Linked DNA regions of Homo sapiens. The protein of the gene in region 2 purifies or fractionates together with the protein of the main gene of each other region. This does not show direct contact. Each region holds a gene or a part of one and is shown on either strand. Other genes may lie near its edges.

Evidence for each region.
Region 1: the proteins of TBC1D28 (region 2) and KCNIP1 purify together in Homo sapiens (affinity purification with mass spectrometry; one large-scale study listed by BioGRID and IntAct). This does not show direct contact.

The regions. Positions count from the first base shown.
Region 1 is NC_000005.10:170,730,711-170,734,079, reverse strand, and holds part of KCNIP1 (A-type potassium channel modulatory protein KCNIP1), read right to left. Parts: intron 1,281-3,369; coding exon 1,176-1,280; intron 245-1,175; coding exon 182-244; intron 1-181. UniProt on the Homo sapiens protein: Regulatory subunit of Kv4/D (Shal)-type voltage-gated rapidly inactivating A-type potassium channels. Regulates channel density, inactivation kinetics and rate of recovery from inactivation in a calcium-dependent and isoform-specific manner.
Region 2 is NC_000017.11:18,641,435-18,645,754, reverse strand, and holds the start of TBC1D28 (TBC1 domain family member 28), read left to right. Parts: upstream 1-1,363; 5' UTR 1,364-1,465; intron 1,466-1,471; exon of another isoform or gene 1,472-3,018; intron 3,019-3,122; exon of another isoform or gene 3,123-3,169; intron 3,170-3,756; 5' UTR 3,757-3,831; coding exon of another isoform or gene 3,832-3,927; exon of another isoform or gene 3,928-3,976; intron 3,977-4,021; coding exon of another isoform or gene 4,022-4,123; intron 4,124-4,320.

The DNA.
Region 1 (3,369 bases), on a different chromosome or scaffold from region 2:
AACTGCAGGTCAGGTTGAGGAGTGGAACTGTGGACTTCACAGTTGTTGCTGGTGTTGTTGGCTCTGATGGGAGGGGTTGCAGGTATGTGCAGGTTTCTCATCACCTTCCTTCTGCAGGTCCCCAGGCCCCAGGTTTCCTTTCCCAGATGTAGAGTTATTGTGCCCTGAGATCTCTCCTTACCTCCTGACATGATTCAAGAAATTCATCTAAAGTTACGATGCCATCTTTATTTTTGTCCATTTTCTGAAAGACATAACAGAAAGCACTTTACAGAATCTGGTGATCTCCATTCCAAAGCTTACTCCCCTGCTTTCTTGCTGGAGCTCAGAGTAACGAGCTGGAGCTCATTTCATTCATTTCATTAACCAACTTTGCCCTGAGAATGAGAGTTGTCTTTCACTGGCCAGACAACTCCAATTAGGTCCTGATTACAACACTTTGAGCCCCATGAGCTTCCTTAAATCAAAAGACTTGCTCTGGACACTCATCACCTCACTGCTGGCTTATTCTGCTTCTTCTGTAGACTCCCTGCTACCCTGTCCATCTGGCAGAACACTGGGCAAAAGAGGTTCTGATTCTGGCCTGTTACTTGCTGTACAAACTTGCACAAGGCCAGAGAGGACTCTCTTTTCCCATCTGCAAAGTGGGAGGTTGAACTAGAGTGAACTCTTGATATTCTCTGATACTCCACCGCTAGATTAATTTTTTCCTAAAATGCCCCAATGATTATACCACTCCCTTAGTCAAGGATCAGCACTAGCTGCCCATCCTGTACCAGAGCAAGGCCAAACTCTTCCATTTAAAGGTCTCATAATCTGGCCCTATCCTAGTTTCCAATCTTATTTCCCCTTACTTCCCAGACACAAATGCTTAACACCTCCACAGTTGTAATTAATGAAGTCTTTCGTGTTTACCCTGATCCCCAAATTTTTATGGATTTAGAGTTCATACTATACCACTAGCGTTTAATAATATACTTTCTTGTTCTCTTCTGTCATGTACACTTGCAGCTTAAGGAGATCATCTGTTTCTTGAGGACAATGTATCTTATAATTCTTTTCTGTTACCAACCATGCTTAGTACAGGGTTGGACACAAATCATTTGCTCAGATGCTCGTGGGTTGACTTGATCTAGGCTGGGCTTACAGCTCATGTGCAGGGTGTGTGCACTTACCTGGAAGAAGACGTCCACATGCTGCCTTGGAGTGTCCTCTTTGAGCACAGGATATGTGTATTTCCCCATCATGTCATAGATGGCTTTGACAATGTCCATCATCTCCTGGAGCAGGGACATAAAAGCACACAGTGTGGAAACCATGAGGTCAAGCTCTTCCTAGGTGACAGAGTTTGGGGCTCCTTGTGCCCCTTGGCAATGAAAGTGATTAAAAGGTGAGGTCCTTCTTTAGCAGGTGATAGGGAGTTAGAAGCAAGCAGAAGGGGATATATTGTGGGAGCCCTTCTTAGAGAGGAGATGGTAGACAATTCCTAAATCCCTCAGAAGCTCATGGGTAGGTTACCTTGTTATGGGCATTGTCTTCAGTGGGGGGTGATTTGTGGGATCCCCATTCACAGGCTTGAGGCAAATAAAATACTATTCTGAATTTTTAAAAAGTTAATGTTCTAGCCTAGAGATTTAAAAATCCCCATAGTTTCTGCCACTGTTTTCAGTTAAGAAAAATGAACCAACAGCCAAGATTATCCACAGGGCACATGAGGCCAATAGTTCCACAGACTGAGGCCCTTATTAAAAAGATCAGTTCTCAAGTCCACTCCAAACCTATTGAATCAGAGAACCTTAGGACTCGGTCCTGAGAGTTTCCGTGTTTATCAAGGTACATTGGGAACCATTATTCTGACCATTCTGGCCCAACTCAGAATGGGGGTAAAAGAGCATTTGGGATGTTTGACCTGGTTTCTACAGAGACCCAGGGGACAGTCTCATTCCATGTGCTTATTTTATTTTATTTTTTGTTTAATTTTTGCATATTATGAATAATTTTAGACTTACAGAAAATTTACAAAATTAGTACAGAGAGTTCATGCATACCTTTCACTCAGTCTCCTCTAATGTTAACAACTTGCATAACCAGAGCACAATGACCAAACCCAGGAAATTAACATGGCTTCACTATTATTAACTAAACTACAGGGCTTATTCAAATTTTATCAGCTTTTCTTTTTTTTTTTTTTTTTTTTTTTTTTTTTTGAGACGGAGTCTCGCTCTGTGGCCCAGGCTGGAGTGCAGTGGCGGGATCTCAGCTTTTCAACTAATATTTTTTTCCCTTCAATGATTCTACATTGCATTTATTTGTTGTGTCTCCTTAGTCTCTTCTAATCTGTATGAGTTTCTCATTCTTTTTTTCTTTTTTCTTTTTTTTTTTTTTTGAGACAGGTTCTTGCTCTGTCACCCAGGCTGGAGTGCAGTGGCACAATCCCCGTCACTGCAGCCTCGACCTCCCGGGTTCAAGTGATCCTCCCGCCTCAGCCTCTCAAGTAGCTGGGACTACAGGCAAGTGCCACCACACCTGGCTAATTTTTTGTAGAGATGGGGTTTTGCCATGTTGCCCAGGCTGGTCTCAAACTCTTGGACTCAAGTGATCTTCCTGCCTCTGCCTCCCAAAGTGCTGGGATTATAGGCATGAGCCACCATGCCCAGCCTGAGTTTCTTTGTTTCCTTGTCTTTCAGGACCTCACACTTTTGATATGAGTACAGGTCAGTTGTTTTGTAGAATGTCTCTCAATTTGAGTTAATCCCTGGTTTAGTTATGATTAGATTGAAGTTATGCATTTCTGGCAAGAATACCACAGAAGTGATGGTATAACCTTCTCAGTGCGTCATATCAGGGAGTTACATAGTGTTGAGATGTCTTATTACTGATAATGTTAACCTTGATCACTTGATTAAGGTGGTGTCTGTCAAGTTTCCTTACTGATTTAGTATCTTTCAGTGGATCTTGCCTGCAAAAATTATTACTGTAGTGTTTGCCTGATGGTAATTTTGTATTTCCTTTATTCCTTCTATACTTATTAATTACAATTCTTCTGTAAGGAAGAGCTACCTTCTCTCCTGCATTTATTTATGTATTCAGTTGTTTATTTACATTAGCATGGACTTGTGGGCATTTACCATATTTTACAGGTTATAATCCAGTACTTAATAATTTTTAATTTTGCTCAAATTGCTTTCATTCTGACTATTGGGAACTCCTTCAGGTTGACTCCTGCAGTTTTTTTTTTTTAAGCACTTTTATACCTTCAGCATAATAAAGTACTCCAGGCTCATCTTGTATTTTCTCTTTCCCAATCTTAGAATCAACTATTCTTCAAGAAGACTGGTTCTGTTTATCGAAGAATGGTATTTAGAAATC
Region 2 (4,320 bases):
CTCGGGGCCCTCAGGGTGATGGAACCCAATAGGCTTCCTTAGGCTTTCCTTTCAGATGGACAGGAAATAGATGATGTTCCATTGTCATTTTGTTTTCTTTCTTTCCATGGATTCTGTGACCATCTTCCTCTCCTCATTGACTCTGCCAGAAGGGGATTCCTGGTGGGGCAAGGGTAGCTGGTGGGAAATGAGCTACCAGGAAATTAGCAAAGGGTCTTCTGGCCATCTGGGGACAGTTCTCATGTGGTCCCCAGCCCAGTCTCGAGGCTTCTGGGCCGGTCACCCTGCAGCCTCGGTGCTGCGCCTCTGGATCCAGCCTCCGCAGGAAGAACCCTGGGAGACCCAGCAAAACGGGGTGCCTGGTCTGACAAACGTCCCCCCGTTCCTCTGGCTCTGCGGCTCAGGAATAGGCCGAGACATCATGTCCAGGCAGTGCCAGGCCACCTCACTGCCCCCTTTAAGGTTGAGCGCAGAGGGCTTTTGGGGGCGAGCATGAAGCTGGGCACCCAGAGCCTGAGGCCGACTGTCCCTCCCTGTGTCCTGGAGTGGGGGCCTTGACCCGAGAAGACCCCCAGGGGATGGCCTGTGGGTGCTGATGTGGGGAGGGGAGGTCTGTGGACTGAGGGGGGTCATTGGCAGGGGACATTGATCACCGCGGCTCAGGGTTCTGCTCAGTGGGGTCAGTGGGAACGTGGTCAGTGAAGGCCTGGTCAGTGGGGGCCTGGTCAGTGGGGGTCTGGCTGGCAGAAGCCTGGCCAGGTGGCAGCTAGGTGACTTCAGGCAGGGTTTGTCCTTGGAGCCTCCTTGCCGCCATCTGTAGTGGGAACGAGTCATGGCACTCCGGAGGGCTGCTGGGAAGAGGAGGTGAGCAGGTGTGTGGAATCCAGCCCTGCCAAACAGATCTAGCACTTTACAGCCTAGATGAGTCCCCTGCTAGGGAGGGGACCTGCCCTTTGCCTTTTGCCCCCAACCCTCAACCTTCTGCCCCCTATCTTCCATCTGCAATCCCAGGAATGCCCTGGATGGGGAGGTCTGAGTTTAGGGAGCACCTGTGGATGCTCTGATGATGGCCATGGGTCCCGAGGGGGGAGAGAGTGACAAGGGTGACCCAGTGTCCTGGGTGCACATATGAGTGGGGCAGCTGGGCCTAGCCAGAGCAGTGACAAACGCATGCACACATGTGTTCACCCACATACACGTGCATGCTCACATGCACAAACACTGCACACACGCACGTTGACACTTCAAGGGGTGGAGGGTGCTGACTCTGGTCCCGGCTGACCCAGGCAGGGGCCCATTGTGATGGGTGTCATGACCTCACAATGTCACTGGTGCTGAGCACTCGCCCACCTGTCCGCTTGCCGTCTCTATGTCTGGAGCTCTTAGAGATAAGACATAGAGGTGTCTGGTTCTGAGAAAAGGAAGTTTTGCTAAGTGAGAGACACAACTGACTCAACTGACTCAGGTGAGTGTGACCTGCTCTGTTCCTTCCCTGCTGACCTGGGTACAGTCATTACCTGGTGGGCAGGGCTAGCCTCTGGGCAGGTGCCGAGGAGGGTCATCCCTGAGCACTCACCAGGTGCCTGTTCTGCACTGACCTGGTGGACTCTGTGGGGTGGGTGCTGTCCCCGAATGTACCCATTCCACAAGTGAGATGTCTAGGGTCAGAGAGGAGGTGACTGGCCAAGAGACCCAGATGTGATCCTGGGCTGTGCTCTCAGCCCTGCCCTGTGCATGCCCTGGTCTCTATGGCCCTAGATTCCAAATCTGCCCAGGGTTTTCTGGCCCCTGATGGGGCAGAGTCTGGCCCTGAAAGAGCTACTGGGATGGAACTCCTATGGGTGTGGTGGAGGGAGGTGGTGCTCGGTCCAAGTCTGTGCCCTAAGCTGGGTGTCCGCAGGAGGAGGTCTCACCAACTCAGACTTCACGTGCGGTCACTGAGGGTCTCCGTGGGACCCACTGGACACATGGGGTCCCTTGTCTGGGAGTAGGGAGCCCTCTGCCTGTGGGCAGTTGTGGTAGAGGACCTTGAACACTGCTGCTCTGGGGCCTGGGCAGGGAGGACTTGGACAGTGGGGACCTGGTCAGGAAGGCCTGGTCACTGGGGGACTGGTCAGCGAGGACATGGTCAGTGGGGAATTGGTCATCAGGGGCCTGGTCAGCAGAGGCTTGGCCACTGGGGCTTAGTCAGTGAAAAACTGGTCAGTGGGGACATGGTCAGTTGGAGCCTGGTCATCAGGGGCCTGATCAGTGAGGACCTAGTCAGAAGGCCTGGTCACTGGGAAAACGGTCAGTGAAAGCCTGGCCGGCAGGGGTCTGGTTAGTGGGGGCCTGGCCAGATGGTTGCTTGGTGACCTCAGGCACGGGGTTTGTCCTTAGAGCCTCCTTGCCTCCGTCCATAGCAGAAATGAGTCATGGCACCCTGGAAGGCTACTGGGAGGAGGAGGTGAAAAAATGTGTGGAATCCGACCTTGCCACTCACACCCAGCATTTTACAGTCTAGCTGAGTTCCCCCTAATGAGGGGCCCTGTCCTGTGCCCTCTAACCCCTAGCCCCCATCTGCATCTTCAGGACTGCCCCGTGTGGGGAGTTCTGAGGTTGGGGAGGACCCATGGATGCTCTGATGCTTGCCACAGGCCTCAAGGGAAGGTGACGCTGATTAAGACTTGATGAGCACTTGGGTGCACATGTAAGTGGGACAGCCAGCCCTGGCCAGAGACGCTACTCGTGCACACACATGTTCACCCACATAAACATACATGCTCACCTGCACAAACACATTTTGACACCTTAGGGGCTGGAGGACACCGACTCTGGGCCCTCTTGACCTGGGCAATGGCCCATTATGATGGGTGCCATGACCTCAAAATGTCACTGGTGCTGAGTGACCGCCCACCTGCCCACCCACTCACCTCTGTGTTGTGCAGCACTTGCACATAAGACGCACACAGGTGTCTGGTTCTGTGGTGCATGAACGACTTTTCTAAGCGAGAGACACAGCAGCCTGAGCAGACTCAGGTGAGTGACCTCTGGGCAGATGCCGACGAGGGTCACCCCTGAGCACTCACCGGGTACATGTTCTGCACTGACGGCGTGGACCATCCTCTCCTTTGTCCTCACAGAGACTCTGTGGCGATGGGTGCTGTCCCCAAATGTAGCCATTCCACAGGTGAGATGTGTAGAGTCAGAGAGGCGGTGACTGGCCCAGAGACCCAGATGTGACCCGGGCCGTGCACTCAGCCCTACCCTTTGCCATGCTGGACTTGAGCTTTGACCGCTGAGGCCTCTCTACCCTAGATTCCAAATCTTCCTTGAGTTCTGGAATTCAATGAGGCAGGGTCTGGTCCTGGAAGAGCCACTGGGACAGAGCCCCTGTGGGTGGGGTGGAGGGTGAAATTCTTGGTCCAAGTCTGTGCCCTAAGCTTGGTCCCCACAGGAGGAGGTCACTGATGGTTGCTGTGGGACCCACTGGACACATGGGGTCCTTCATCTAGGAGTGGGGTGGGGAGCCCTCTGCCCTCAGGCAGTTGTGGAAAATGAAGGAGCCCTGGAGGGCTGCCTGGAGGGTGACAATCGTCTCTCCTGGTCAAAGAGGCTTGGGGACTGGAACCCTCCTGCAGCGTCCCATTCTCTCTGTCTGGTCCTCTAGAGGCCTTGCCTTCCGTTTGCCCCGAGTATTCCTGGGGGGGACGGTTCCCCCAGGTGTTCTCTAGGACTAAGGCCCCAGCGTTCTCTTGTTCTTTCTTGGTGACCCAGGAAAACAAAGTCCCCTCCTGTATTGACAGCTGGGAATTGTGGTGTCCACCGTCCTCGACCTGCGACGGGGTCTCCATGAGCACAGAGGCTGCTCTGGAGTCAACAGATCATCTTTTCCCCAAACCAAACTGCTTGGCTGGCGTTGTTCCTGAAGGGGCTTCACTGGCCAGAGTGAGTGAGAATTGGGGTAGAACGGAGCAGTCACCAGATGTCTTGCTTCCTACGGAAAACTGATTATCTTCCTGGTCCCTGAACCATCCTATAGAGACATCCAGTCCCTGACTCCACCTGCCTCCAGGTGCCCAGAACAGCCCATCGTGGGGACTTCACCCTCAGCAAGTGGACGCCGTTTGTCCTGCCAGGGCAGGTGTGTGTCTGCCTTGGGGTGTTCGGGGACAATAGGCCTCTCTGTTCAGGTCCCCGTGTGCTCAAATCCTCAAGAAGGAGCCCACCACTGGTTGGAGGTCAGGACTTCAGAGATCCAGTCAGGGGTGGGGCCACTGAGTCTGGCCCCTTGTCATCTGGGAGGGGTAGTGGAATGGGGCTCACCAGACTGGAGTGTGT